Regions from separate parts of the Homo sapiens genome. Here regions 1 and 2 are each linked to region 3. The links come from fine-mapping of genetic effects on plasma protein levels. A gene starts in region 3. Each other region holds a variant in brackets. All regions are shown on one strand. Distances are between the middles of the regions.

The links. A credible set is the group of variants that fine-mapping cannot tell apart. PIP is the chance, under the fine-mapping model, that this variant and not a neighbour inherited with it causes the effect. The UK Biobank Pharma Proteomics Project read protein levels with antibody pairs (Olink). The fine-mapping took linkage between variants from a reference panel, not from the people measured, so its PIPs are less certain.
Region 1: its variant is the best candidate, but not a certain one, in a credible set for the plasma level of the MOCS2 protein (UK Biobank, PIP 0.56).
Region 2: its variant is the best candidate, but not a certain one, in a credible set for the plasma level of the MOCS2 protein (UK Biobank, PIP 0.58).

Annotation. Positions count from the first base shown.
Region 1 is chr5:53,016,867-53,028,306 of GRCh38, forward strand. ITGA2 (integrin subunit alpha 2) reads left to right here. Exons shown (of 30, transcript NM_002203.4): 2 at 9,882-10,002. It overlaps LOC124900974 (a long non-coding RNA gene), which reads right to left. Exons shown (of 2, transcript XR_007058767.1): 2 at 6,681-9,614. Among named protein-coding and RNA genes, the nearest start is that of ITGA2-AS1, 32 kb to the left of the region's middle. The variant C/T (reference allele first, on the strand shown) is at 6,380.
Region 2 is chr5:53,051,742-53,059,792 of GRCh38, forward strand. It overlaps ITGA2 (integrin subunit alpha 2), which reads left to right. Exons shown (of 30, transcript NM_002203.4): 8 at 3,797-3,947; 9 at 4,243-4,408; 10 at 6,284-6,360. Among named protein-coding and RNA genes, the nearest start is that of MOCS2, 54 kb to the right of the region's middle. The variant G/A (reference allele first, on the strand shown) is at 711.
Region 3 is chr5:53,103,866-53,115,305 of GRCh38, forward strand. MOCS2 (molybdenum cofactor synthesis 2) reads right to left here and starts at 5,892. Exons shown (of 7, transcript NM_004531.5): 1 at 5,386-5,892; 2 at 4,657-4,778; 3 at 3,212-3,356. The coding sequence starts at 3,309. MOCS2-DT (MOCS2 divergent transcript) reads left to right here and starts at 5,977. Exons shown (of 2, transcript NR_104654.1): 1 at 5,977-6,283; 2 at 9,994-11,261. RefSeq lists a silencer at 5,631-5,920 and an enhancer at 10,278-10,777.

The sequences.
Region 1 (11,440 bases), 87 kb before region 3:
TCTATTCTGCTGTTAATACTTGTGATTGTATTATGAAATTCTTGAAGTGAGTATTTCAGCTGTATCAGATGAATATTTCTTTCTTGAAATAGTCATTTTGTCTTTCAGCTCCTGTATTATTTTGTTGTATTCCTGAGATTCCTTGGATTGGGTTTTGACTTTTTCTCCTGAACCTTGATGATCTTCATTTCTATTCATATTGTGAATTCTAGTTCTGTCATTTCAGCCACTTCAGCCTGGGTAAGAACCATTGCTGGGGAACTAGTGCTGTTGTTTGGAAGTAAGGAGACATTCTGGCTTTATGAGTTGTCAGAGTTCATGGGCTGTTTCTTTGTCATCCGTGTGGGCTGATATTCCTTCAGTCTTTGAAATTGCTACTTTTTGGATGGGTTGTTTTTTGCTTTTATCTTCTTTGATGCACTTGGAGGATGTGATTGTGGTGTTTAGTGAACTGGCATTGTCTCTGTAAGATTATAGGGAGCAAAGGCTCAGCCCTGCACTCCTAGGCTTCATACTCTAACTCTGAGGAACTGGCATTGGGCCCCCCCGCTTTGTTCTCTGGTCTTTCAAGGTTAGGCATCTGCTGCACTGGAGGGGCCAAAGTGTTCATGCTCTATATTGTCCACAACACTCCGATGGGGGAATGCCAGCCAAAGCTCTTTGTTGGGGTGGTGGCAGCAGGATCCATCGTCACTTTTATGTGACAGCAGCTGTGGCAGCATGGCCGTGTGCCCATGTGTCAGCTGGGGTGGGGCTCCAGAAGGAGCAGGGTGGCAGCAACCTGCTGGCGGTGCATGGTAGCAGTACAGCAGGGGCAGGGCACCAGTGGGGATGAGGTTGCCAGTATTCCTGTGTGCATTCATGCCAGCATAGCAGGCTGCCCACACATCAGCTGGGGGTATGGTAGGATGAGCATGCACTGGCAGGGGAGGAGAGACAAGGTCTTCTGGCATGTGTGGGCCAGCAAAGCAGTGTTGGGGGGATGTGGAGGGGTGTGAGGCATGGGTAAGCGCATGCTGGCAAAATGCTGGGGAGAGGCTGCGGTTGGGGAGGCTGTGGCTGGGGGAGGCTGCAGGTAAACCATTATGCATCGGTAGGGGCTGTTCTGCTGGAGCCCTCTGATGGCCAGGCATGGTCTGTCAGTGCAGGAGCTCTGATGAGGTGCCCTAGGAAGCACTCTGGTTGGGCATCTGAAGCTGCTCTGCAAGAGGCCATGGTCAGGCTGGAGCTCCAGGAAAGGCCAGCAGACAGGAGATGCTCAGATAGGACTGGCCCCATCCCACGGGCAAGACTGCCCTGCTCTGTCCGGGTCCAACAGTCACCCTAAGGCTAAAGTCTCCTATAGGAGCACGGCAGGCCTTGAGGGATGGGCGTTCTTGGCCATATTCTGCTGTTGTTAAATCCTCTGGGCTCCCCACTGGCTGGAGTCTGCCTTTGCCACCTCTCTAAGCAGCTGTCTTTGTGTCAGCTCAGGTGTCCGTGGGGGTCGTGAGTTCCGCTGCTAGGATGCTGGAGGTCCATGGCAGGAGCAGGCCACTCCTCACCTGTTCAACTGACCCCAGAAGTTGCTGGGGACCAGGAAGGATTCCTGGTGCTGGGCAGCCTCGTGTAGGGCTCCTAGCTTTCTCCCCCTTCAGCCCAGCATCCGTGTCCTCCCTCATCCACTCTCAATGCCTTCCCTGCAAAGACCTGTTCAGAGTGTGTGCCAGCCTTCCCAATGTCCTGGTTTCTCGGTCGGAGAGGTTTCTTCGGGCTGCCTCTAGTCAGCCATCTTGGCTCCCGTCTTGGTATAGTTTTTGAGTAACACAAAGAGGATTATAGAAAGCATATAAAATATTTGTAGAAATTACATTTATTCTTGAAGAGGTCATGTCTAAAATTAGTGAAATACTCTTTAAAACATTTTGTTTTTTAGGCTGGGCACGGTGGCTCACGCCTGTAAATTCCAGCACTTTGGGAGGCCGAGGCACGTGGGTCTCCTGAGGTCAGGAATTCGAGACCAGCTTGACCAATATGATGAAACCCTATCTCTACTAAAAATACAAAAATTAGCAGGGCGTGGTGGTACACGCCTGTAATCCCAGCTACTCAGGAGGCTGAGATATGAGAATTGCTTGAACCCGGGAGGCGGAGGTTGCAGTGAGCGGAGATCGTGCCATTGCTCTCCAGCCTGGGTAACAGAGCGAGACTCCAGTCTCAAAATAAATAAATAAATAAATAAATAAACGTCAAATAAATAAATAAAACATTTTGTTTTTTAAATGAAAATAAAGGGTACTTTAAAAAAATAATTTTAAAATAAGTTGAATTATTTAAAAATGATTCAATGATTTATTGAACCACAAAGGATAAAAGAAGTAATTCATATAAATAAGCAAACTCATTAATTTTTTATCTTGAGCAAAATATATAAATTAGTTACCCACGGTCACCTGTGACCTAAAAATATTAAATGGAAAATTTCAAAAGTAAATAAGTCATAAGTTTAAAATTGTGTATCGTTCCGAGTAGTGTGACAAAATCTCACTCCATCCTGCCCAGGATGTGAATCGTCCCTTTGTCCAGCAGGCTGTCTGAGGCCCCTGCCCATTAGTCATGTAGGAGCCATCTTGGTTATCAGATCAACAGTCATGGTATTGCAGGGCTTGTGTCTGAGTCACCCTTATTTATTTATTTAGAGATGGAATCTTGCTCTGTGGTCCAGGCTGCAGTGCAGTGGCATGATCTCGGCTCACTCCAACTTCCACCTCCTGGGTTCAAGCAATTCTCCTGCCTCACCCTGCCATGTAGCTGGGAGTACAGGCATGTGCCACCATGCCCAGCTATTTTTTGTATTTTTAGTAGAGATGTGGTTTCCCCATCTTGGCCAGGCTGGTCTTGAACTCCTTACCTCAGGTGATCTGTCCACCTCGGCCTCCCAAAGTACTGGGATTACAGGCGTGAGCCACCATGCCTGGCCAAGTCATCCTTATTTTACTTCATAATGGCCCCAAAGTGCAAGAGTAGTAATGCTGGCATATTATTATAATTGTTCTGTTTTATTATTAGTTGTTGTTTTTAATCTCTTGTTGTGTCTAATTTTATAAGTTAGATGTTATTATAGGTATGTATATATAGAAAAAACAGTATATACCATATAGGGTTTGGTATTACCTATTGTTTTAGGCATCTACTGGAGGGATGGGAGGATCTTAGAACACATTCCCTGAGGATAAGAGAGAATTAATGTAATTCTCATTCCTGCACTAAGAACAATGTTTACCACATCATAAATACTCAATAAGTTTATTGAGTGAACAAAAAATAAATAGGAAAATAAAATCTGTTTATTAACTGTGTGTATAAATTCATTAGTTTTGTATTATGGACAGTTTTGAATAGAGAGAGAAAAAACATAGAATCATGGAGAAAATATCACAAGTTATCATACAGATATGAACAAGTTTATACAAGACTTATTACAAACATAGAGTTCCATGGAATTGAAGTGTTATTATGTGACCATTTGAGTTACTGAGATGAAAGACATTTATAACCATTGCACTTTTAAGTCTATAGGCATAAATGTAGGGATCCCATTCTTAGGACATGCCTAGCAAATGAAAGTAAGAGTCAAATGCAACCCAATGGGCCAGAGTTTCCTTTATATATTGTAAATTATATATTTGTGCATGTGACAATAAGATTACACACTGCAAATGATGTTGAAATAAAATAGCTCATGCTTATAGTCCTTCTAGTCCAGGGTAGGAGAAGCAATTTTCTTTCTTCATTATTTTATCCTGATTCTTATTTTTATTTTATTTTATTATTATTATTATTTTTTTTTTGGTGAGGTGGAGTTTCACTCTGTCACCCAGGCTGGAGTGCAGTGGCTCGATCTTGGCTCACTGCAACCTCCGCCTTCCGGGCTCAAGTGATTAACCTGCCTCAGCCTCCCGAGTAGCTGGGACTACAGGTATGTGCCACCATGTCCGGCTAATTTTTTTTTTTTTTTTTTGTATTTTTAGTAGAGACGGGGTTTCACTATGTTGGCCAGGCTGGTCTCAAACTTCTGACCTCAGGTGATCCACCCACCTTGGCCTCCCAAAGTGGTGGGATTATAGGCATGAGCCACCGTGCCGGCCTTTTTATCTTGATTCTTATACACTAAAGGAAAATTTAAAAGCAGCTACATTACACTCACAATTGTACTGTTTGTTGTGTTACTATTCACATATATTTTACCTTTTTCTTCTATTCTGAATATTATTTTTGTTATTTTATTTTCGTTAAGCACTGTCATCTTCTTCACAATTGCTGTTTTTTTAATGGCAGGATAAAACTCTGTCTAGTTTATATGCTACCATTTGCATATTCACGCCCCTAATCTTGGACATTCAGATAATTTTAATGGTGGTTATTAAGAACTAATTTTTTTAGATTGCTAGAAATTATTAAAGCTATTTAATATGTATAAAGTGTGTTTTCTTAGGCCACCTAAGACTGAGAGATGACATAAAATACAAAATTTTTATTAGCAAAATAGAATTTCTGTGGCCCAGCCACCTACTTACACACACAGAGAGCCTAAGTGCCTAAACACTGTTTTCTCATTCTTCCGGAGTAGATAACATTCTCCCAGACTCTAGAGCATGGTTCTCCTGGAAACCTTTGCTGCCCCTAATTGTGTCCCCTGTGTCCTGATCACTATTGCACCACGGCCCCTGCCCTCGGCATGCTCTAGTTGCTCACTATCCTCTGCCCTCTTCCCTGTCAATCCTTCTGCAGCTACTGAGGACCAGTCCCTCAGGCATGGGAGAAATGTGCTCCACCTTCTTAAAGTAATGACACTCTGTGCTCACAGTTAGAGATAGGCCTTACAGTTCTTATGTTTTTGTTCAATATTTAATGGAGACATTGTTCCCCCTAGAAGTGCAGTATGCATCTTCAGGAATGGGCCAAATTGCAATCTGAGAGGCTGTGTCAAAACCACACCTCTATTCCCAAGTCCACCTCTTGCTTTTGGCCTTTGCTCTCTTCTCTTAACCTGAATTTCTTCCTATGTATGTCCCTGGGCACGTTTTGCAAATGAGTCCCTTCTATGAAAAACCCATCCCTGCCCCTGGCCCTTCAGTATATATAGATATGCTCAAATTTGCATTGACCACAAAAGTTAGACCCTTTTATTTTGCCACCCTTTACTACAAAATGCATCCTTTAGTTCTGACACTGATATCATAGACATCAATAAACTTCCCTTGCCAAATTTTTGTGGTTGAATATAAAATGACATGTTTTGTTTTATACATTATTTACGCTCTTGTTGTTAAAAGACTTTTTCCTTTCTGAGTTTCACTGCATTTTTTTTTTTGGGGGACAGGGTCTTACTTTGTTGCCCAGGCTGAAGTACAGTGGCACAATCACAGTTCACTGCAGCCTTGAACTCCTGGGCTCAAATGATCCTCCTGTCTTAGACGGCCATTGAGATTACACGTGTGAGCTGCCATGCTCAGGCTTTGCTACATTTTTAGAACAAAAGTAGGTTAACTATATCAAATCCCCAATCATATGTTTCTCTTTTGAATTATAACTTAAAATTATGCTCCAGAAGAAAGTAGGAGAATAAATTTCATATTTACTAAAATTAATTCTTAAATTATTGTTTCCAAAAAAATTATTTCAGAGATGGTCAGGAATCCTCAGGAAAGGAGATCCTGTAAATTTTTGTTTGTTTGATTTAGAGACAGAGTCTCTGTCACCCAGTCTGCAGTGCAGTGGTGCCATCATGGCTCACTGCAGCCTGGACCTCCTGAACTCAAGCAATACTCTCATCTCAGCCTCCCAAGTAGCTGGAACTACAGGCATGCACCACCATGCCCACCTAATTGTCTATTTTTTGTAGAGATGAGGTCTCATTGTGCTGCCAAGGACGGTCTTGCACTCCTGGATTCAAGCTATCCTCCTGCCTCAGACTCTAAGAAAAATAAGAAATCTACATGAGTTAACTTATGCTTGACTATCTGGTTTACTTATGGATATTAAAATGGCAACCAGCCTGTTATAATCTAGGATGAAACAGTATCCCCTTTTTATTGTGAAAATAGAGGAAACTAGTTAGCCCTGCATGAGATAAAATGTATTTGGTGTAAGCTTTCGTGAGATTTACTGGAATACTTTGGCCTGGTTACTGTCAACACGTGTCTGACAAGGTCACCTTTGTTAAATATGTTGAGTTTGCGATGCTATTATTGCCTTTCCAGGCATTCACATGAGGACAAAGAAGGAAGATTTATACTCTGGGTGATAATAGGCTCCTGGCAAAGCCCAAGTCAGTTGAAGACTCACTGCATCTAATAGAGAACTGGAAATGTATAGATTAATGAAGCAACCTATGACT[C/T]TCTGTGCCAGACTTTTCACCATTGCCGTACTCTTCTCTTTCACACCCTATGCCTACGTTTAACATGATGTTCCCGGTGCCTGGGATGAACTTTGCCTTCCTCTTTATGTAGTGAATTCCAACTTGTCCTCCAAGATCCAGATTAATTGCCATCTCCTCTGTGAAACCTTTGAACTTAGATTTACCCTCTTCTCAATACTGAGCTCAAGGTTCTTTTTACCACTCTTTATTTTAACACTTATACATTTTGATGCCATTTTTTTTAGTAAAATTACCATAATGGAAATGCAAAGAGAACAGGGAGATTTTAGTTTTATTTATTTGCAGTATCCTCAGGACCTTAAAAAACGCCTGGTACAAAGGAGCTGTATAAACATATGTTGAATGATCCATTTTTTAAGTATGTATAGACACATGGGCATGGTTTGGAGGAAGGAAACAAGATGAACCAAATATGGTTCTTATTATCCATATGATTCAGTTGAACTATGAGGACAGACATCAGAAGATATAGGCACTGGGATTGCAAAGAAGAAATACATGTTGAATTAGACAGAATACTTCCATTAATTTTTTATGAGCTATTTAGATATCATATGCCAAGTGTGAAATGATGACAGAGATCTGAATTGTAAATACATATTAAGAGAAAAAGTATAGAGAATTGAGATTGTCCAGATTTATCAAAAGAGGCAGGATATAAAGGGAAAGATTTAAGTAGCTGAAAAGAGATTTAGTATCAATGGAATGAAGGGATGGTGATAAAGAAGGTCATGCTTTGTGAGGAAAAATGAGCAGATCATTTATGAATAGAAATTCTGGACAATAAAGTTGAGAGATGAGCCAAACCTAGACTCAGAGTGGGTGACATTGCGCAAGAAAGACATTTAGCCTTCATGAGTTTCAGTTTCCTTATTTGTAATTTGTTAATAATAGCTTGGTTTTGCTGTTCCACAGGATTGTTGTGGCACTCAAATGAGTCAGGATGATTCTGACATAGGCAGACATAAGCATTAAGAAACAGTAAGATGCGAGTTGGAATAAACATTATAATTTAAATAGAGGAAAAATACTGGAAGGAAATACATCTGAATTAACTGAACTTACAGTAGAAAGAAAAGATTATGAATGATTTTTCCCTTGAGTTTTCTCTATATTCCAAATCATTATTGAAGAACATATAGTAATTAAAATGCATTTTATTAAAAAAAAATCCTAGGTGCTGAGAAAGTAAGAGTGAATAAAAGAAACAAGGTTTGACTTCTCAAGGAGCTTACATTTTAGTAGGCACAGACAAAAGAATATGGCTATATAAGATAATTTTGGATAATTGCTCTAGTAGTGATACAGTGATGAAGAAGGGTGCTGCTGCTACACAGAGGGCCAAGGGAGAGCAGAGACCTATTTGAGCAAAGTCCTACATGCCGTATTAGGTGAGGATGTTATAGGCAGTGGAACAGGCAGCTGCAAAGCGCATAAGCAGAATGAGCTGCATGTGTTCAAAAAACAGAAGGAAAGTGAGTGTGGCTGGAACACAGGGAGGGAGGACGAGAGTGGTCGGAAGTGAAGTCAGAAAGATACACCAGGGCTCAATCATGAAGGACCTTTGAATTTACAGTGAGGACATTGGATTTTATTCTCAGTTCAATGGCAAGACATAAGTTAATAATATATATCTATGCATATATAGTAACACATATATGCCTATATATGTGAATTGCTGTATAATTGAACTGCTAAATGATAAAATGAACTCCATCATAATTTCCTGCCATTAAATGATCTGCCCAGGTCTAATTAATGGGGGAAAATGAGGTTGTTTTATGTACAGTCACGTGTCCTTTCCAGAATTAGGTATTTTAAAGGTGAAAGCAGTTTGGCATCATCTCTCCACGCTAATATGTTAGATGATTGATAACATATTCAAATAGCATTTATTGAGCTCTCCACAATGGGGTGAAGATAAATGTTGGTTGAAAACACCAGGTATTTTGCATGCCAATTCTGGATCTCTGCTTAATTTGCTGTTATTTTCTTTTGCATTTTTTTATTATTCAAAAATAAAAAGGAGCAATGGAGCATATGAAAAATAGATGTTAAGGAGAAAATTTGCAGATGTTAAGCTTTGCAGATTTTGCTATAGAGTATTTCAGAATGAGTATTTGTGTTTCTCTTCATGGCAGCACATTATTTGTAAGAAATAAAAAGCTGAATTCCTTGTGTGGACAAATCCCTGATACAGTGATTTTGGCACTTACAGAGGGACGTTAACTACTTAAAGTCCCCGTTGCTTCATCATTGACTTCATTATCATTTTGGAGCACTCTACAGAATCTGCTCCCTGAAATGCAGAGGCGCAATGGAAGAGCAAGCCTTTTTCTTCCGGCCTTTCAGTGCCTAAAACAATAGACATATGAAATACCATGCACTTGCAATGCTGCCTAGAAAGTAGGACATTTCTTTGTGAAAGCACATGTTAATGGAACTTTGATGTCAATTTTAAAGAGTCCATTCTGTCTTCAGTGTCTGCGAAGGTAAATATTGATCTTAAGCAACATGAGGCATATTCCCATCTCCAGAGAGAGCATTAATATCCACACAACCTTCTTTCTGTAGGATGAAGAACTGGCAGCATTAATGCTGTCAGTGTCATACAGAGAAACATGATTTGCCTTATTCCTTTCCTTCATTCCCTTTCCATCAGAAATAAGAATTTTCAAAAAAAATAAAATAAAATCTATCAAGGCTTTATATGCCTTGGTCTTTGTTCTGTTTTTTGAAATGATTAGCATTTCTCAATCATTCAGAAAGAAGCATCAAAAACAAAACACTTTTGACAGTTCCCACTGGAATAAAAAAGATATGACACCAATCCCTACATTTTCATCCTCAAAAATGATAATGATCACTTCTGAAAGAAAATGATAACAATTTTCAAGGAGCTGTGATTTTCTATCTCCTTTGATGTAGTCATCAATGCCTTTTCGACAGATGTTTCATATAGAGTCCATGTCAAGATGTTCAAGGTGATTCAGAATAAATAGATGATACCCTTCAGCCCTTGCCCTTGGGTGGCTTAGAGTCTTGTTGTTTTGGGAAGGACAAATATAACTCAAATTACTTAAGAATACTTAGAGATAATTTAGTTGTTTTAAGTCTTGTGTTCAAATTTTGTCTTCATCCTTTCCTCTTTCCAGCTGTGAGATATACTTGTCCCCTGGAACCTCAAAATTCTCTGCAAAACAAAGATAATATTAGTAACTATCTTCTAGCATTTCCATGAAGATTAGTAAGATAATGAATTATGCATATATAGTATTTAGCTTGGTGCCGGGCCTCCAAATAAGTACTTAAAAAGCAGTAGTTATTTTTTCTGGGTAAACGTTGATAAGTAATAATTATTAGGTCAAGCAAGTTTTCTTAAAAATGGCCTTTGAGAATTATACGACACACTTATATTCATGAATTGTAAATATGTGCTATTTCATATTTTTCTTAATAGGCATTTTAAATTGTTGTTTGGCCTACAATGTTGGTCTCCCAGAAGCAAAAATATTTTCCGGTCCTTCAAGTGAACAGTTTGGCTATGCAGTGCAGCAGTTTATAAATCCAAAAGGCAACTGGTAAGAATATTCTCTTCTTTATGATTTCAGTAAAAATACAAAATAAATTTCATATTTGACTTCAATTGCTTTTTCAAATTGGTGCCTGACTGTACTATAAATGGGTGGCCCTCAAATATCCTTAAATGAACAATCTTTCTTTGAGAGTTGACAACTGCAGACTGATCATTAATGGGATGGTATAATGGTTCATTTTTAAAAACCTGGATAGAAAGTTTTCTCTAAATATTCAAAAGCAAATTTATAATACCAGTTTTGACCATTAATACATAGGTAGGTAGATTGATAGAATGATAGATTTGTCTTCATTTCTGATCATGTAAACTGATATTCATTGAACTTTGTAAATCATTACCTAGTTATTAATGCTATCTCTGGACCATTTCTAAATGGTAGAATTGTTTCCTACATTTTTTTCTTTAGCAAGGTTTTGTCTACTTGCTTCATTCTAAGTTAGGCTTTTGCCCTCCTTGTGGTGAAGGGTCCTCACAAATATCAATGCAAAATGTACAAAGGTGGCTTTCTCTAGCATATTAACACCTTTTGTTTTTGCCCCAAAGTGCTCCCAGTTTTTACATGCTATGTGATGGTTACATTTTCAAACCATGGCTTTTCTACCCAGGTGAAAAACAACCACCTCAATGGAGATGGAAATCTAGTTCCCATAATACTAATGCAAGTGAACCCAGAGAAATGAGGTAATTTGAAAGTTGTATTTGGGAAGAAGCGCTGTAGCTCCTATTCTGCCAGAGTTCATGCCCACTGGTGGACACAGGTCCTGCCATGGGGACCTTATCTCCTTGTTGCAGCAGGAGGCTCCAACCATCCCCACTCACCCTGGAACTTCAGATTCTGAATCTCCACTCTCTAGAGCTCTTTTCAGTGATTAAATGGGCTGTTGTTGGCTTATCAAATAAGAACCGTAATGTATGGCCAAGTGCAGTGGCTCACGCTTGTAATCCCAGCACTTTGGGAGGCTGAGGTGGGAGGATCACTTGAGCCTAAGAGTTAGAGACCACCTGGGCAACACAGTGAGACCTCATCTCTATTAAAAACCTGAAAATCAGCTGGATATGGAGGTGCATGCCTGCAGTCCCAGCTACTCAGGAAGCCGAGCTGGGAGGTTGGCTTGAGCCCAGGAGTTTGAGGCTGCAGTGACCTATGTTGGCACCGCTGCACTCCAGCCTGAGTGACTGAGTAAGATCCTGTCTCAAAAAAAAAAGAGGAAAAAACCGTAACTGTAATTCATAAGCCTTTTTTTCTGTGTGAACTTCCATTTGATACTCTAAACAATTGAATTCAAAGAAAGGTTCAGGATCACATGTTGGGGCATGCCTGTCTATTTGATGAGGAAACAAAATGAAATCATCCCCTGAGAGGGCAGCATTTCTCAGCAGGCATCTTGGAGGATGTAAATCGTGAGCTGGGTTTTAAGTAG
Region 2 (8,051 bases), 54 kb before region 3:
TGGGAAAGTTAAATCTTTGATTTTAGGATATTTATAAGATATCACATGATATTTAAATGAATTTATGTGAAGTAAATGAAATGAGAAGACCTTAGATTAAAACAGTAGGAAATGGGGCAATCTGTCATAATTTGTTAATATTCATCAGAGATTCAGACAAATTGAGCTCATGGATCACTTGGTGCAAATTAACAAAGACCACAGAATCTTAAACATACGAGTTTAAGTTTATTATGCTTATTACAATCAGTGGGAAATGTGAAATTATAACTATACAGGACTCTCTTGATTCTTATCTCAATTTCTCTATTTTCTCAGATCCACTGACCTTTCTTTTCACTCTATTTTTTATTTTATTTTTATTATACTTTAAGTTCTGGGATACATGTGCAGAACGTGCAGGTTCATTACATAGTATACACATGCCATGGTGATTTGCTGCACCCATCAACCCATATCTACATTAGGTACTTCTCCTAATGCTATCCCTCTCCTAGTCCCCCACCCCTTGACAGGCCCCAGTGTGTGATGTTCCCCTCCCTGTGTCCTCATTGTTCAATGTGCTCTCATTGTTCAGCTCCCACTTATGAGTGAGAACATGCAGTGTTTGGTTTTCTGTTCCTATGTAAGTTTGCTGAGAATGATGGTTTCCAGCTCCATCCATGTCCCTGCAAACCAGATACCTTCACAAAAATGCTAAACACACTCCG[G/A]TTGTTAAACAAATTAATGAGAACAACAAGCTTGCCTTCCCTTAAACCTATTCTCTCTCTTTGTCTTGTGCATTCCTTCTTTTTACCACCATAATTCTTTTTGAAAAAAGCAACTCTATTCCCTCCCTCTACTTCCTTGAAACTTACAGTTCTGCCACTAGATAAGCATGACCCTCTTCATCCCCCAACCCTGTGGTCCCACCTTAAACCTCATCCTTTCTGGCTCCTCTGAACATTTGATAATGATGAACATACGCTGCTATTCCTAACCAAGTTGCCATGACACCACAAACTTCTCGAACTCCTGCCAAATTCTTTTGCCTCTTCACTAGCTCCTTTTCCTATTTTTTCTTCACTAAACAGAGCCCTCTCTTCTTTACTGCTCTTCTCCTGTAGGGATTCTATCCACTGTCATGGCATCAGCAGCAGCACTGTTGGGTTATCTCATTGCTATGTTGTCAGCCCTACACTCTCTCCCAAAACTCACACTGGCATCTAGCTGATGATGAATATTTTTATTTGGAGTGTTGGCTCACTTACCAAATTCAATCTGTCCCACACTGGCCTTATTCTTTTCCCTACCACTCCTCATGAACTTGCCATTTTGATTCATGCCACTGTCTCTTGCCTAGTCAGTCGAACTAAAAATTTGGTTTCCTTTATTCTTTCCACTCTTCCTTATGTCACACATCTGGTCAGTGGCCACATCCTGTCATTTCTATTTCTGCATTTCCCATTTTATCTGTCTTCTTTTTCTGTGTGTGTATTTCAGTTGCTACTTCCGTCAACTGGTGACAATCCCAAATGTCTCAAAAGCAGATTCCCCACAAGAGAAGATATGATTGGTTTGGTTCATCATTACTGTCTCTATTCAGGGACAATAAAGGTTTTTTGGGCCAGGCCATCTCATAAGCTGCTGGCCAGTCAATAGGTCAGCTGCCATTAGGTGAAGCGCCCTTTCTGGACACAGCAAACTGGACTAAAAGGACAAAGAAGTTGAGATGAAAAATGGCTTTCCTGGAGTTAGAAACTGCAACGGCCCGGTTTTCAGCAGGGAAGGTGGGAGTAGCATTTTTCCCTGGAAGGAGCCTGGGGCCCTGGCGAGCTTTGTTCTCCAGGACAATGGCCACTGTCCATTGAGGAAGGACTTGCCTGGCTTTCATCATGTTTCAAAACTTTGGTTTTCTCCCTTGGGCCATTGTCTATCTCCCTCTTCCCACTATTTCCCAAGCTAACAGGTTTTAGTCTGCCCAGTGCTAGGAGAATCACCCAACATTTTACTCATCCCTCCTAGAATGTAATTGCCTGTCTCTCTCTCTCTGTCTGTCTCTCATCTCTTTCTTTAAAACATTGAAGATAATCTGAAATTATTTCAGTAATTGTTGCCATGTTTTCATTCACCTCATTTCATTCAATGCCTACAGTTGCAGTTTATTGTTTTAAGCACTGCGGGTAATTAAAACTAAATGAGACACAGTTTCTGTCCTCAAAAACCTTAGAATCATACATGAAATTTACAGTGTATCATAAAGAGAATGTGACACTCAGAAAGGATCTGATGTGGATAGTGTAATTCAAATTTGGCCGAAAAATGCAGAATATTTTCTATGTTTCTATAGTCTACATTATAGAATACAAAAAAGATTTTAGGAAATAAAATGATATGCTCAGTTTTATAATAAACTGAAACTCATATGTTTAAGATTCTGTGGCCTTTGTTAATTTGCACCAAGTTATCCATGAGCTCAATTTGTCTGAATCTCTGATGAATATTAACAAATTATGACAGATTGCCCCATTTCCTACTGTTTTAATCTAAGGTCTTCTCATTTCATTTACTTCATATAAATTCATTTAAACATCATGTAATATCTTATAAACATCCTAAAATCAAAGATTTAACTTTCCCGACTGCCTTCTTAAAGTATTCAAGACATAGAATGCTCTGATTTTTTTCTTTATTTGATACTATCTATTAAAATTTGAATTGTGTGTATCCTGTGTCCCAATAATTTTACTGCTAAGATTTTATCCCATTTGAAAAAGTATGCCAAGATATATACACAGGGATATTTATTACAGCCTTACTTGTAAAACTCAAAATGTCCTAAGCATCCAATAATGGGGAACCGGTTAAATAAACCAGTCTTCCTTCATATGGTCCTCCAAATAAAATATTATGCAGACATTTAAAAAAAGAATGAGACCTTCATGTATATACATGTGCTGATATGGAAAGGTCTCCATCAAAGTAAAAAACAACTGTTTAGAATATGCCCTCATTTGATGCAAAGGCATAAGAATGATACAGTGGACTCTGGGGACTCAGGGGGGAAATGGTGGGAAGCGGGTGAGGGATAAAAGACTACAAATTGGATTCAGTGTATTCTGCTCAGGTGATGGGTGCAAATCTCACAAACCACCACTAAAGAACTTATTTATATGACCAAATACCACCTGTTCCCCAAAAACCTATGGAAATAAAACATTTTTTAAAAAAGAATATGCCCTCATTTGAGTAAAAGTTTAAGGGGTAGACTATGCCTGTACCTATATTACATCTAAATAAAACATTTTCTAGAAGGAAATGCAAGAAACTGATAATGGTGCTTACCTGTGGAGAGGGGTTTAGTGTCACATTTGGTTTATACCTTTCCAAATACTTTGATTTTTTTTTAACTGTGGATATCTATTACTTTTAAAAAAATAAGTATTGATAAAGTAAACACAAGACTAATGCATAAAATTTATAACAGAAATATCTTTGCTTTATTAATTCATACTGATTAATTCAACTTTCTTAGAAGAAAAGAATTCTAAGGAATACTGGGATAAATACATGCACACATATACACACATATGCCCTGACACACAAGACATTGTTTTTAATGTCAAGCAAGACTTCCATTTGTATATGTTTCTCTACAAGCTACAAATGGAACATTAAATATGTCCTCAGAATTAATATGGAGTTACAATAGATTGTGTTTAAAGAAGCTAGTTTCATGTTTCTATTTTAAACCAGAGGTTCTCATATTAACTTCATATTTTGATAGCAAGTCTTTATTTAATTTTATCTGCCACAGAAAATATGCTTATTCAGCAGCTTCTGGTGGGCGACGAAGTGCTACGAAAGTAATGGTAGTTGTAACTGACGGTGAATCACATGATGGTTCAATGTTGAAAGCTGTGATTGATCAATGCAACCATGACAATATACTGAGGTTTGGCATAGCAGTAAGTGGCTTTTCTTTTCACTTGTCTTGCCGCTATTGGGTAAATCTTTCTTTATAGCATCACTTCTCAAGGCTGCACTTTCCCATTGGCTGTTCATAGTTGAATATAAAAGAAAGTTCTTACTCTATCTCTGCTTCTTGATGATTTTCAATCCTGTCTACTAAATAAAGGGTTATGGAAATGTTGCTTGATTTACTTTTCCAGAGGGAATATTGTGTTCAAAATAGGCTAGAATGTACTCATAGGGAAAATGTACAGCAGTAATGACTGCACATTCTCTTCCTCTATTTTCAAGGTTCTTGGGTACTTAAACAGAAACGCCCTTGATACTAAAAATTTAATAAAAGAAATAAAAGCAATCGCTAGTATTCCAACAGAAAGATACTTTTTCAATGTGTCTGATGAAGCAGCTCTACTAGAAAAGGCTGGGACATTAGGAGAACAAATTTTCAGCATTGAAGGTAAAAAAAATAACCTCCTTTCAAGAATTTTCTTCAAAATGTTTAAATAATTGTTTATTATCACATATTTGCTTTACTAATGTTAACTTGTATACCATGTATAAAAAGAGCTACTACAATCAGTAAGAGAAATGGATGAAAAACATGAATAAATAGTTTATAAATGATAAAATACAAATGACTGATAAACATAAGAAAATATTCCCAATTTACAAAGTATATTTCTAAATACTTTCAGTAAGTATTTAAAAACATAAATTAAACCGACAATATGTTTTGCCTAAAAGATGACACAGAATAATAATGTTTAATCCTGGAGAGATTATCAGGAAGCAAAGAAGCTCATACACTGTTGATAGGATGATAAATTGTTATGACTTTTGGGGGACAATGTATGAATATCTATCTATTAGAATCATAAATAGTTTTACCTTTTTACACTGTGTTATGTAAGTTCTAAAATTCTTGAATTTGTTTACAGTAAGCATATATATTTTTAAAATTAGAAAAATACAGCAAAGATTTTTAATAGTTCAGTTTTTGAGGAAGCATTTTATTTATAGGACCTAAAATAATTTACTTAGGTGGCCTTGGAAAATCTAGTTAGTGCAGAAAGATCACGTGTTCAGGAGCTCACTGTGTGGGGGACTAGCACACACTTCACAGTTGGTTAAAAGAAAAAAAAAACACACATCACCCAAATCCTAGTTCTTGATGGTTAACCCGAATAACTCTTTGCAATAAAGACCATATGTTATTGGAAACCTATGTATCAGGTACAGCCTTAGAGTCTGGGGCTAAAGGAATTGCATAAATTATTCATTCATATACTCAAATCTTGATTTGATTATCCATTGGAATTACCCAAAAAGCATTATTGCTTCTTCAGTATCCCATGGTGCTTCAAAGTTGTTTAAATAACCATTTAAATCCAGCATACCCTGAGATAACACAAAATCACTAGGCTATCCACACTGATAATTGTATTTGTTTGTAGTGGAATGAATGAGAACAATTGCAATCTACAAGCTAGCTAGAAATGATTTTGAGCATTATTTGCTATTATGGACTTTGGGGAACATTATTCTATTTTATTAAAAAGTATCTCTACTCATCCTGTGTAAATTATTTTATCTTCTAAATAAGACTATGTTGTACAGTACAGTTTGTCTTCTTTTCTATATTAAAGTGTGAGTCCAGTAATTTAGCTTCCTTTTGTGAAGATTAGTGAAACGTAGCCATTTTGATCACACTGTATGGAAAATAAGTACCAATTGCATCTTACAGTGTTAGTGACACAGGCAAGCACATATACAGAACCAGAACAAACTTCCCAATTGGTAAAATTCCTACTCAGTCTTGAATTCTGATTCCTAATAGCTAACTCAGTTATCTCCCAGCAGTCTTCACTACAGATCAATTGCCCAGCCCTTCCAACTGCATCTGAGATATGTGTACATTATCAGTACCCATATTTCAAAGCTAAAAATTCAGTTAGTTTCTTAGCTAGTAATGATCAAGTTTTTAAAAAATTATCATCTCAGTTTTCACCTTACCTTATACCCTTTGTTGAGTGTCCTTTGGTATCAAGAACGTCATACATATTCTGCTAAATACATTAATGTTCAATTAAAGTTAATGCCAACTTTGAACACTACCTTGGAAGTGTTGTTATTTCCATAACCTGCTAGAACACTTTCTTAGTAATTTCTTCTTCCCAGAATATGCAAGCTCTGTATTTTTGGGTGAGTATTGGAACAGTGTGTGTTTGTGTTTGTGTTTGTAGGCATGTGTGTACATACGTGCCTGCTTGTGTTTGAAAACTTGATTTAAAATTACTGACAGTAATACAATTTTTAAAATTGAATGTTCCAGGTACTGTTCAAGGAGGAGACAACTTTCAGATGGAAATGTCACAAGTGGGATTCAGTGCAGATTACTCTTCTCAAAATGTGCGTATATCAGATAGCTTCAAGCCATGTTGTCATTTGGCATAACACTTCCAGACACAGTAGCCTTATACATAAAATGGGAAGACAGCCATCTAGGGATCAGCCCTTCTGATTCCTAGTCACGGTCATTTAGTTTCTTTGTGCTGCTGATTTACCTCTAAAATTTGAAGGATAATAATGTCTTCCCTTCCCTGTTTCACAGGGATCTTATATGGGGGAAAACTGATAGTATACCAGAAAGTCTTTGAGTACCCCAGGGCACAGACTGTATATTAACTTAAGGTATTATTCCTGCAGGAATTTTCTTTGAATCAATTAACTACTGGAAATGTTTGTTAAAAACACGTACTCTTGTCATCACCGTCATGGTCGAATTCTGAATGGTCATAGTATCTTTTTCTAAGAGCAGACAGAAAAGAGTTGAAAAAATAAGGAGGTAGGAAAAACGTGAGGTGGAATTGGAATACAACACTGTCTTTTCAGCTCGGGGAAGTCTATTTCTATCTCTCAGAAACATCCACCTCCTGGGCCCCTGATTCTAATTTGAGTCAGGAGGTGAGAGAGATAGTGAAAGGAGGCGAAAAAAAAAAGAAAGAGATCCTGGGAATTATTTAAGGAACAGTAGGAAATCCCAGGATTTGATCGGCAGGTCAGAGGACCAAGAACAGCTTGTTTTCTATCTAGAATCAAAGGAACTGACTTTTTCTGGATCATCAATCCTTAGAGATGCTCATAGAAGTTATGGATCTTTCCCTCAGAAAAAATGTAAATGAATCTATGCACGGAGAATTTTGCACACAATCCCATGAGGTTTTTGTACATACGCTGAAGTCCTTTCATGCACCCCAAATCCAGAGTCCCTCAATTTACTACAGTCATTCACATAACTTCATGGTCTCTTATCCTCAAAGTAGAACACATCTTTTCCTTACTTGCTATTTTTCATGGCTTGTATTTTTTAGTCCAACATCTTATCTTTGGTACGCTCTAAGATAGAAGAACAAAAAATTAAAAATAGTGTATCTCATCCTCACCAAATCTGCCTCGTTTGATGATTTATAGCATTGAGTGTTTAGATTGGGTTTCAAGTCAATCCAGAGTAGGCATCTTCCTTTGCCCTCCCCACAGGGCTGACAAATGGTTATTTTCCTTCCAATAGATTGAATGTCACAGCTAAAGTTGCCTCTTGTAGCTGTGCTATTATCAAATAGATGGAATATAGGAATATACTGGAACATTTGAGAAGGGGTCAGGAAGAGAGAGGAAGAAAGCTGAAAGTAGAACAGGTCAGAAGAGGGCCTCCCGAGCCGTGTCTGGGATAGCAGAAGTATCTCCGTCTCTCCCGTGTCAGTACTTCTGTTTCTCAAGCATGTCTCATATCCGGCTGTGAGCTTTCCTTATAAATATGTGGAGTGAGAGACTCACTTCTGACTCCTTTGTAAAGTTCATAAGGGTTTACCATTGGCAAATATATGCCTTTGAAAGGGAAATTTGAAGATGGCTCTGTACCTGTCCTGTACTACAGGTTATTACAAAGGTTTGTCTGTATAACATATCATACTAAATAAAGTCCAAAATAACACAGCCAATGGGAAGGCTTGTTCTCTAGCACAAATATATTAAGACAATTCTACAATATGTCAATATATGTTCATATATATTTCATCATTTTTAATAAATCTAAACAACTT
Region 3 (11,440 bases):
CCCCAGGCAGAGAGAGGGAGTGGCCAATGCCAAGGCACTGGGACAAGAAAGGGTGTGATGTGCTCCAGAACCTAGAACGAACGGAGAGAACTGGGCAGGCTGAGGCTGGACAGGTAGGTAGAATCTTGCAGGCAATGAGGAATATAATTATTAATCCTGTAAGGTTTCATCTGAATTGAAAGACGAGAGAAAGAAGGCTCAGAGAAGTTAAGGAACTCACTCAAGGTGCTGAAATTCCAACCAAGGAGTACTAGTTAAGCCAATGTTCTTTTTCCTATCTCCTTTCCACCACGGAAACAGCACAATTCTTTATATACCACTGGATTCCAGGATTTTTCATCTGCTACACAAGCCGCCTAAGTGTCTTCCACCTCTTTTTCTTGCAATAAAATATAGGTAATATAAATATGGTCTACGAGTTTCAAACCATACTGAGTTCCCACAACTTCTGATTTTACGAGACTACTAAAACCTAGCTGGCAGGTTTTAAAAATGCATAATACCAGTCCTGCGAAACACATTCAAGTAACACACAATGCTTTTGAGTAATCTTCGTAACCTTTTCAAAGAACAGCTGTAATTACCACAAATATCCCTTTAATGGTAGCCTATAGTTTTCTGAATAAATTCGAAATTCCAAAAAACTGCATTTTTAGAACCTCCTGAAATCATGGTGGTGATATGGTGACCACAGTTTCTAAATAGCATTGAGATACATATCTGACAAGAGATTCTTCTATTATTTCCAGATAGTAGGCCTGAGAAAGAAGCCTAGTGTTGACATGAGAGGCAATCTGTTTTACAGATTGATTCTTCATTTCTTGTGGCACTGCCCTCCAGGAGGGTGGGGAAAAAATGGGTGAAAAAAGATAAAAAGGCATCCTTGGCTTGCTCCTTTCTTTAATGGAACCAAGTTTTTGCCATTAAATATGATATTTACTCCTGATTTTGAATAAAAATCCTATCAAATTAAGAAAGTCTTCTTTCATTCCTAACTTACCAAGAGTTTTTATTCAGGGATGACTGTTAATTTCTACTGTTTGTTCCTCAGCTGACAATAAATTAAGCCTCATTCTGTCTGTACTTATAAGAAGCCTGATCTCTCCACACTATACTGAACAATGTTCTTGTACATTATCCTACTTGAATATGGACTAAGTTGTTTAGAAAGATGACAAGGTAGCATGGGTCAAAGAGCCACCTGCAACACAGCCATAACAATAAAGCTATTCCTTTAGTCCTGGGCAATGATTAGCTCTCTTTTCAGGCATTATTAGCTGTGAAATTTTTCTACATTTTCCATGGCCGGGAGAGCTATTATCTAGTATTAGTAAGTGTGGTTGGAAAAAAGTACACAGACAGTCCAATAATATGAGTTCAAATGCTGTCTTTTGAAAACCTCTTGAATCCTCAGCAAAAAGAACAAAGCTGGAGGCATTACACTACCCAACTTCAAACTATACCACAGGGCTACAGTAACCAAAACAGCATGGGACTGGTACAAAACAGGACACATAGACAAATGAAACAGAACCCAGAACCCAGAAATAAAGCTTCACACCTACAACTATCTGATCTTCAACAAACCTACAAAAACAAGCAATGGGGAAAGGATACCCTATTCAATACATGGTGCTGGGATAACTGGCTAGCCATGTGCAGAAGACTGAAACTGGGCCCTTTCCTTATACCATATACAAATATTAACTCAAAATGGATTAAAGACTTAAATGTAAAACCAAAAACTAGAAAAACCCTGGAAGACAATCTAGGCAACACCATTCTGGACATAAGAACAAGCAAAGATTTAATGACAAAGAAGACTCAAAAAGCAATTGCAGCAAAAGCAAAAATTGACAAATGGGATCTAATTAAACTAAAGAGTTTTTGCATAGCAAAGGAAACTATCAACAGAGTGAATAGACAACCTACCGAATGGGAGAAAAATTTTGCAAACTATGCATCTGACAAATGTCTAACATCAGCATCTCTAAGGAATTTTTTAAAATTTATGAGAAAAAACAACCCCAATAAAAGTAGGCAAAGGACATGAACAGGAACTTTTCAAAAGAAGACATACATGTGGCCAACAATCATATGAAAAGAAAGCTCAACATCACTGATTATTAGAGAAATGCAAATCCCAACCACAATGAGATACCATCTCACACCAGTCAGAAGAGCTATTATTAAAATAACAGATGCTGGCGAGGACGTGAAGAAAAAGGAATGCTTATACACTGCTGCAGGGAGTGTAAATTAGTTCAATCATTGTGGAAGACAGGGTGGCCTAGAGACTGAAATACCACTCAACCCAGCAATCCCATTACTGAATATATACCCAGAGAAATATAATCGTTCTGTCATAAAGACACATGCACACGTCTGTTCACTGCAGCACTATTCACAATAGCAAAGACATGGAATCAACCTAAATGCCCATCAGTGGTAGACTGGATAAAGAAAATGTGGTACATATACACCATGGAATACTATGCAGCCATAAGAAAGAACGAGATCAAGTCCTTTGCAGGGACATGGATGGAGCTAGAGGCCATTATCCTTAGCCAACTAATGCGGGAACAGAAAACCAAATACCAAACGTTCTCACTTACAAGTGGGAGATAAATATTGAGTACACATGGACACAAAGAAGGAAACCATAGACACTGGAGCCTACTTGAGGGTGGAGGGTGGGAGGAGGGAGAAGATTGAAAAAATAACTGATGGGCACTAGACTTAATACCTGGGTGACAAAATTATCTGTACAAGAAACCGCCATGATACAAGTTCCCCTGAACTTAAAAGTTAAATAAATTCTTTTTAATTTGGCTCTTTCACTTATTAGCTATGTGATTAGCTATGTGATCAAAGGCAAGTTTTTTAAGTCTTCTGAATTTGTTTTTTTACCTGCAAAATATGGATATTAATATGTCACTGTGCCTGACACATAAGATCTCAATAAACCATGTTAAATGAAACATATCAAACTGATATGTTTATTGTAATTAAACTGCTTACAATAGACTTGATGCAGAAATGGTGCTAGATATTCATAAATCTGTTGGCACCAATGAAGAGTTGCTGCATCAATAAAGATTTGGTACAGACAGACTTACAAAGAATATACATTAACAGCAAACCACATACACTTTATCATCTGTATGATCCTTCCCCACACGACTGATTAAGAAAAACAAATCTCACATACCTAGATGGCTCAAAAGCACTATCCTCCACTAATGGGGGGGATAACGGCAATTTCGTCTCCAGGCTGAAGCACGAGGAGCTGATCTCCAAGCTCGACATATTCTTGACGAACAGCAAATATTATCTGATTTCTAACATCAGCCAATCTAAAGGGGAAAAAATATGACTCAAAGTATCAACGCTATGATAGACCTCAAATCGCTTCAGCTGCAATTAGAGATATTACATAGATATAATTATATAAAGCATCACCTGCAAAATTACCAATTAAATTTACACATAGTATATGGAGAAAGGACATATCCACTGAAGAACATACTTATACACCACAAAGATACGTTAAACTGCTGTCAACTCTTTATTGGATGTTGTATGCCTTGGGGAATTAAACAACAAAAAAATGCACAAAAAACCCACCAGACTGGAGGCAACACTCAAACCAGGTCAAAAGAAAAGTTTCCAATCAGTACATGGCCTTTCCAGGGTCCTTCTATCCATGTGTTCAAGCACAAGTATAACTGCCCACAAACTATGCCTGTACACATTATCCTACTCGAATATGGATTAAGTTGCTTAGAAAGATGAAAAAGATAGCATAGGTCATAAAGCCACCTGCAACACAGCTTTATTAGCTGTTCCTTTATACCTGAACAATGGTAAGCTTTCTTTTCAGGCACAGTGAAAACGTATACAAGACCTGCTGTCTCCCTCCAGGTAAAGCAGAATGGGAGACCCCACTGTGTTTTATTGATTATCAGGCCACTGTAAGAGCAACTTAAAAGATACGAAATCATGAAGTGGTTTGCTTTTAAACACTTATTATGGAGTATCTTTTACACAGAACTAGGACTTCCAGGTTAAACACCTATACAAGCTAAGTAACACCATTAATATTCCTGAATCACCCTCAAATAAGTCACTTTTATATTTTGTTCCAAAAAGAACTTGAAGTGGGAATGACATAAGTAAAATTATAGGTTTTTCAAGAACCAGAAAAAAAATTAAATATTACAAAAACTCAAATTCAGCAGCATCTAGGATTTGTTGTAACTCATTTTTCTTTCAATCTTAGAAATTTCTATGTTGAGCTCTCTAAAGAGAGGGGCAGAACAAAATGTTTAAAGCACACATTTTTAACAGAATTTGTAACAATTTCATTTAATGTTATAAAATTGCAGAAGTGACATGTGCAGTGTTTTGTAAATTATCAAAGAGAATATAATCATGTCCCTCTGCGGTTCACTGTGTTTTGGGGTAAAATATCTTTAACCTTTCTTAAAATACGGTGCACATTTAGAGTTTTTCAGGTGTTCCAAAAAAAATACAACTAACGATTCTTTTTGACATTAAGCACGGAAATCGAAATTAACCTTTTTACTTTTATCATTTATGTATTTTGAAAATATCTAAGTGTTACTCATATGCATTCTACAAATTTTTAACTACCCAGGATGTCGAGTTTCTATCTCCTTCCACAGCTGCAACGCTTTTATTTCTTGAGGCACAGAAATGGTCTCTGAACGAACTCCTGTTATTTCAGCACTTTTTGCAAAATACAATACTTCAACCTGAAAGTAAAGAAAATGCTTTTAATAACAACTCATACTCGTTTTCTGACTGTCAATGTTGAGCAGTTTTCTCATTTTCCAAATGTATTGCTTTAATCAAAGACAAATTTTATAAAGAAAATTAAATAACCCGTAAAAAATTTCAGTATACCTACAAGTTCAAATTCTGAAAACTTGTTGTTTTAAATACAATTCAGACTAATTTCTGGATGCCTTTTAGTTTTACAAACTTAAGTGTGCCATCATTAAAATCCTAAGTATTTATCTTCTAGGAAAACATGTTAAGCCTGCCTTAATTGACATAAAAGTATAGCACCTTTTATAAATATGTAAGCAAAGAACAAATGTTTGAGTCAAGAGATGAGTTACACAAATAAAATAAATGAATAAATAAGCGAAAAACCTGTTTCTCACGGTTGTCAAATGACCTTAGATTCCGGTCTGTATAACATCGTCCCCAGACGCTAAGGATTAAGTTATGCAACATAGTAAATCTGACATTTACAGAAGCAAGTAGGTTTGAAACACACGACAGACTGGAATTTGCTAGAACAAACTTGTGCCAGCAGCCTGGTATGTAAGGGATCCGACGAAGTAAAATAGGCACCTGTCACTCCGTGCAAACAACTCTTTACGAAATAATTACAGGTTTGCAAATGATCAAGGGTGTAGAAATCCACAGATGAAGCACAGTTCTTCACAAGAATTCTCCATGAGGTGCATTTCTTTTTAGATTAAAATTTTAGCTTCATCAAAACGAATAATCTGGGAAAGAGGTGGTCATAAAAGGTGGAGGCGCCTTCAGAACGAGTCCGTCCTTGCTGCCGTGAGCTGACAAGAGTTCTCGGAGAGGACCCGACTTCTGCTGGGGCAGTCGCAGTAAAGCCCGGAGACAGGAAGGGCCCGGGGGCGGGGGCGGGGGCGCCCCCGAACCCAAGACGCCGGCCAGGTTGGGGGCTAGTGGGGAGGTCCGACTGACCAAGGCTGGGTATGTGGAGGGAAAGGGCGGGAGAGACACGTCGAGGAGGGCTCCGCACCCAGGCCCGCACGCACACCCGCCACCCTTACCTGGCACAGCGGCACCATCCCGCCTAGGACAGCGGGACCGAATCACGGCCGCAAAGGCGCAGGCGCGGGCTCACCCGGAGCGCAGGCGTAACCCGACGGCGCTCAGCCCCCGCCTGCGCCTGCACGGAGCATGCGCACAACCAGCTCCGCCCCGCGCCGGGCTCTAGCTGTTTCCCTCAGGCGGCCTGTTCCACGCCAGGATTAGTTTTGCTTCGCAGATGGGCCGTGGTGGTGAGAGGAAGCAATCAGTATGGAAATGGAGAAATGGCTTACCATGCATGTCCTTCTCCCCAGGAGGGAGGTCGTGGTGCAGGCGAGCAGACGCCAGACTCCTGGACACTTGCCGCCTGCGTTATGGAGGCTTAGCTAATAACCTTGCAGGGGTCTTCAGGCTTTTCCACTGGCTCACCTTTAGGCTTCTGACACTTTTACCTACGGTATGTGAACCTCGAAAATTTGAGACAGGTCTCAGTTAACTTAGAAAGTTTATTTTGCCAACGTTGAGGACATGCCCGTGACACAGCCTCAGGAAGTCCTGAGGACATGTGCCCAAGGTGGTCAGGGCACAGCTTGGTTTTATACATTTTGGGGAGACAGGAGACATCAATCAATATGTAAAAAGTACATTAGTTCCTTCCAGAAAGGCGGAGACCGTTAAAAGCAAGCCCCGCCCCCCCCAACTGGGGGCTTCCAGGTAGGTAATAGACAGTAGCATTCTTTTGAGTTTCTGATAAGTCTTTCTAAAGGAGGCAATCAGAATATGCATCTATTCTTTGTCAGCAAAAGAGGTGACTTGGATAGAATAGGAGGCAGATTTGCCCTGAGTAATTCCCAGTTTGAAGGGGCCCAAGATTTTTTTCTTTCCCAGGTATATGATTAGTGTTTCTTAAAGACAGAATATCCGCCTGGTCAGAACATTCGAACTGTATGACTTTTCCTGTTTATTGGCTGCTCGGTAATTGTATACTGTCCGTCCAACTTTCCCAATTCTTGCCAACAAGAACTCTTGGCTTTAAATTGCTTGCGTCGTTAAGTGGATGTAAGTTACACGTCCCTTTCCTTGGAGCTCACAGTCCTGGGTAGGAGAGTTTTAAATATGAATGATAATTCCCTGTAATACTAAGGATCTGTGTTACATTTCAAGGGTGGAAGGGGAAAGTGGTTGTGTCACCTGGGGAGTGAGAAGATGCTGAGAAGGTAAATCTGCTAGAATGGTGGCAGTAAATGACAAGAGTGGGAGTAGAGCACGAAGAAATTTCACTTGCCTCTGACAAGCCACAGGGATATGAAGAAGCATAATAAGTTCACAGAAGGGCAAGTAGTTGGCAAGGCAGGTGTGCCTCCAGCAAAGGAGGTGATGAGAAGTGAGGCTGGAGAGTCCTTGGTAGGAAAAATTGACAAGGAGCAATGAATACCAATGTGTATCCTGGTAAAGTTGCTAAACATAAAGGATAAAGACTATATTCACACCCAGGCATAAAAACAAGGGAATGACAATAGTGGCCTTAGACTCCTCAGTGGCATCTGATGGCAATGTGCAGTGTGTAAAAAAGGCTGAGAACAAAAGCATGATCCCATAATATTACAGCCAAACTGGTGGGGCAGGATTCTCCTAAATCAGCAAAAACTCAAAAAACACAATACCCAAGAACCCTTCTTAAAAATCTTTCTTGGGCAAAAAGTCCACTCAATCAAGAGTAATCAAAGTAAATAACTCAGCAATAAAGGTATTAATATGGGAAAAATGAAAAACTAAAAAAACTGGCATTGAGATTTTAACCCATTCAAACGTAAAACTAAGATATCAATTATGGGATATGATTATAAAATAAAATGTAAATGACATCAGAATATTAAAAAAAAATGGAAACTGTCCAAAGTGGGAACATATAGTTACAAAATATCAATTCAGGTTTCTTAATATTTTTCATAATCTTCTTTATTTTAGAAAATATTTTAGGAGCAACTATCTTTTACAAATAAACAATAATCTGATGATTTATAATCCTATCAGTTTCACCAGTTATTTTGTTGATAAATTCAAGTAAATATAGGTCAATAATATTGCCTTGCTTTCATTTTTTTATTTTCTAATTCCTAATGAGGTGAATCTTTTCATATTTTCATTGAGCACTTATACTTCTCTGTGAAGTTTCTGTTCACATCGTTTATTCATTATGCTGTAGATATGACACAGTTCTTTTTTTTTTTACAAAATACAGCCCCATCTATAATTTGTGGATATGCAAGCAAAACTGATACCAAAATATTCCAGGCTTATTCCATAGGCTTTGATTTTACTTTTCTTATGAATTCATTAATTAAATCAGTGAATCATCACAATGGTATATAAATTATTTTAGTAATAGCAAAATGACTTTATGAACATTTGCATTTCACTTAAGCTACAATTTTTTGTGAAAACATAGTTGGAGCCACCATTTTCCCAGTTATTTTTACCATAAGGAATCCTATTTGGTTAAGAAAAAAAACAAGTTGAGGCAAAAACATTTCCATTTTGTTTTCAGATTGAAAAAAGACGAGATTCCATGAGACTAGAAATGTAGGAGCATCTCAGACCTTCACAGAACGCTCTGTTAGAAGATGAGAAACATAACGTTGCTTGTGAGAGGTGAAGCCAGCTGGACTTCCTGGGTCGAGTGGGGACTTGGAGAACTTTTCTGTCTAGCTAAAGGATTATAAGTGCACCAATCAGCACTCTGTAAAAACACACCAGTCAGCGCTCTGTGTCTAGCTAAAGGATTGTAAATGCACCAATCAGCACTCTGTAAAATGGACCAATCAGTACCCTGTAAAATGGACCAATCAGCAGGACGTGGGCAGGGACAAATAAGGGAATAACAGCTGGCGCCCCTAGCCAGCAGTGGCAACCCACTCGGATCACCTTCCATGCTGTGGAAGCTTTGTTATTTCACTTTTCACAATAAATCTTAGGGTTGCTTACTTTTTGGGTCCATGCCACCTTGAAGAGCTGTAACACTCACCACGAAGGTCTGAGGCTTCATTCTTGAAGTCAGACTAAGAACCCACCGGAAGGAACCAATTCCAGACACACGTGTAGTAGCAAATTATCAAAAATGTTCATTGCCTTTTCTGAAAAACAATTTTCCCAGAAACACCTGGCAGAATCAGAGTTCATTGTGTCAAAAGAAAAACTTTGGACAAATTAAAATGAGCAAAGAACAATTTGTGAAATGTGCCCCTCTCCCAACCAGAACAGGTTCAAAGAGACTCCAGTGCTGCCACATGATCAAAGAATTATGGACAAAAAAAGCAAATAAATTACAGGAAAAGAAAATGAGGTACAGAAACAGCTGGATTGGTTACAGCTTGGTGTTTACCTTACTTGAACAAGGTTCGAACAGTTGGCTGCCTTTGATGGGCTGCAACACAGTGATTGGTATAAGAGTAGGTTACAGCCTGTTTACACATGCAGTTAGGTTACAATTCACTGTGTGTTGAGAAACCTTTAGGCCAAACTTAAAATTTGTAAGGAGGCAGCTTTAGGCTTAACTTGATTTAAAAGTTATTAGATGTTCCATCAGTCGTTTCGCCAATAGGTAATAGGTTTTTTTGGTTTTGTTTTCTGTGCTATTAAAATAGTATATAAAACTTGTCATCATTGATTCTGATTTATCATGTTACAGTTCAGTCTCTAATTGAACTGAGCCTATTTTTTTCCGTAAAATCCAACCTATTCATCCATTTATACAGATTTTTTAAAATCTAAATATTTTATATCAAATTGCTAAAAATGTTTAGTCACATTCTTTTTCTATTGCTGCCCATATATTTTCTGCCATCATTTTCAGCTGCTAAATAGTATCTAGTCCTAGATATCTGGTTACCCATTATCAGGAACTCTTCGTGAAATGCTTTAGTGACCTTGTTTAAGTCAGTAATAAAGTTGAGATTTATAATCATATTCTATTACCAAAAAAAATACAGGTAATAGATTTTCAAATGTCAGCCCATGTCTACTCCTTTATTTCCCAGTGTGGCAGAATTTTTGAACAGTGAAAATATTTCTGTCTGAGGAAGTTTGGACTATGTGGTGTGAGATCCGTAGACATTGGACTAATGTCATTAACATATTTTAATATTTAAATTTCTTATTAAAAAATAGATAATGCAGTAGTTACTTTTTGAAGGACGACCGAAGCAGGATATTTCCCTGACCCCTTCATGGGACCCACGTCAGAGGTGTTTACTCAGCCTGCTGCCCACAACTCCTCACAGGAGGGAGCGCACAAGTGAACGAGGGTGAGGACTGGAGAGCACCAGCACTGGAACAACCCGGCCACTTCGGCGCTACTGGGATCAAACTCCATCACTTGGACACACTGTGTTCCACCCCTCGTGGGAGGGAGCATGCAGGTGAGAGGATGCAGGAGTCAGGGTGAGCACTTTTGGGCTCCAGCAGGAGCAAACTCTGTGCAGGGCCCTGCAGCAGTGACTGAGGGGCGGCCTGTGACTCCCAAAGCCCCAGAGGACATGCTACAGTGCTCTTTTAGCTCTACCATCCGTAGGTGGCTTAAGTGTAAACAGCTCAGTGGGCCCTTTGCCTTTTTGCGTGAGGCAGCTGCCCTAGGCAAGAGTAAAGGGCCAGTGTCACAGCCTTCTGTATCTGCACTCATGACTCCTGAGCTCTTGTCCTGCATTCAGGGAAAATGAGGTTACACAAAAGAATTCACAGATGGTAAATGCGGGGTATTTTATTCCCAGTGAAAGTGGCTCTCAGCAGGAAGGAGAGCAGAAAAGGGGATGGGCTGGGTAGGTAACCTTCCCCTGAAGTCCTGCCATCTCTGGCTGGATTTTTCTCCAAAGTTACACCATCAAAATGTCCCTCTGAAATCAAGCCACTTCTCTCTGACATCCAGCCGTAGTCCCTCACGTCCAGTTGCTTCTCCTCTCTGCTGGCTGAGTCTGTGGTCTTTATAGCACAGGATGGCGGGCAGGGTGGGCCATGGGTAATTTAGGAAAAAGCAACATTTGAGCAGACAAAAGGGAGAGAAGTTCTCTACTTTGGGCTGCGGTTTCAGGCTTTTTGGCTTGAGGGTGGGGTTTTGTCAGGGACCCTCCCTTTTCTGCCTAAAATTTCTCTGCCTCCTGCCTCTATCACTGTATCACTAGTTTGAAGTAAACCCATCTGGAATTACTGATTTTAACAAATCACACAGAATTTCAAGCACCTTTCTATGCAAATGACTTGTGAAGACATAGAGTATAGTATGCCGTTAACAAACAGCCCAGCAGTGTGCCTTGCACCTTGTAGGTGTACAAAATATTAAGTCAATTTTATAATTGAAGGAGGTAATTTTAAAATGCTACATCCATGTTGTGTAATTTTATTCATTGGTCATTTTAAATAAAAACAAAAGCCAGAATAAACCATATATATTGTACTTGTTAGTTTATTCAAGGAAATTTAGGTCAAAAGAAGCACACCTCCTTGTGGTTAGTTATTCCAACTGCAAATCATTCACCTTAAAATGAAAGAACATGGCTATAGGAGCTTTTTGCAAATATGTTCTTCACTGATGATTTTCTAAAATGTATATATCAAATCCCCC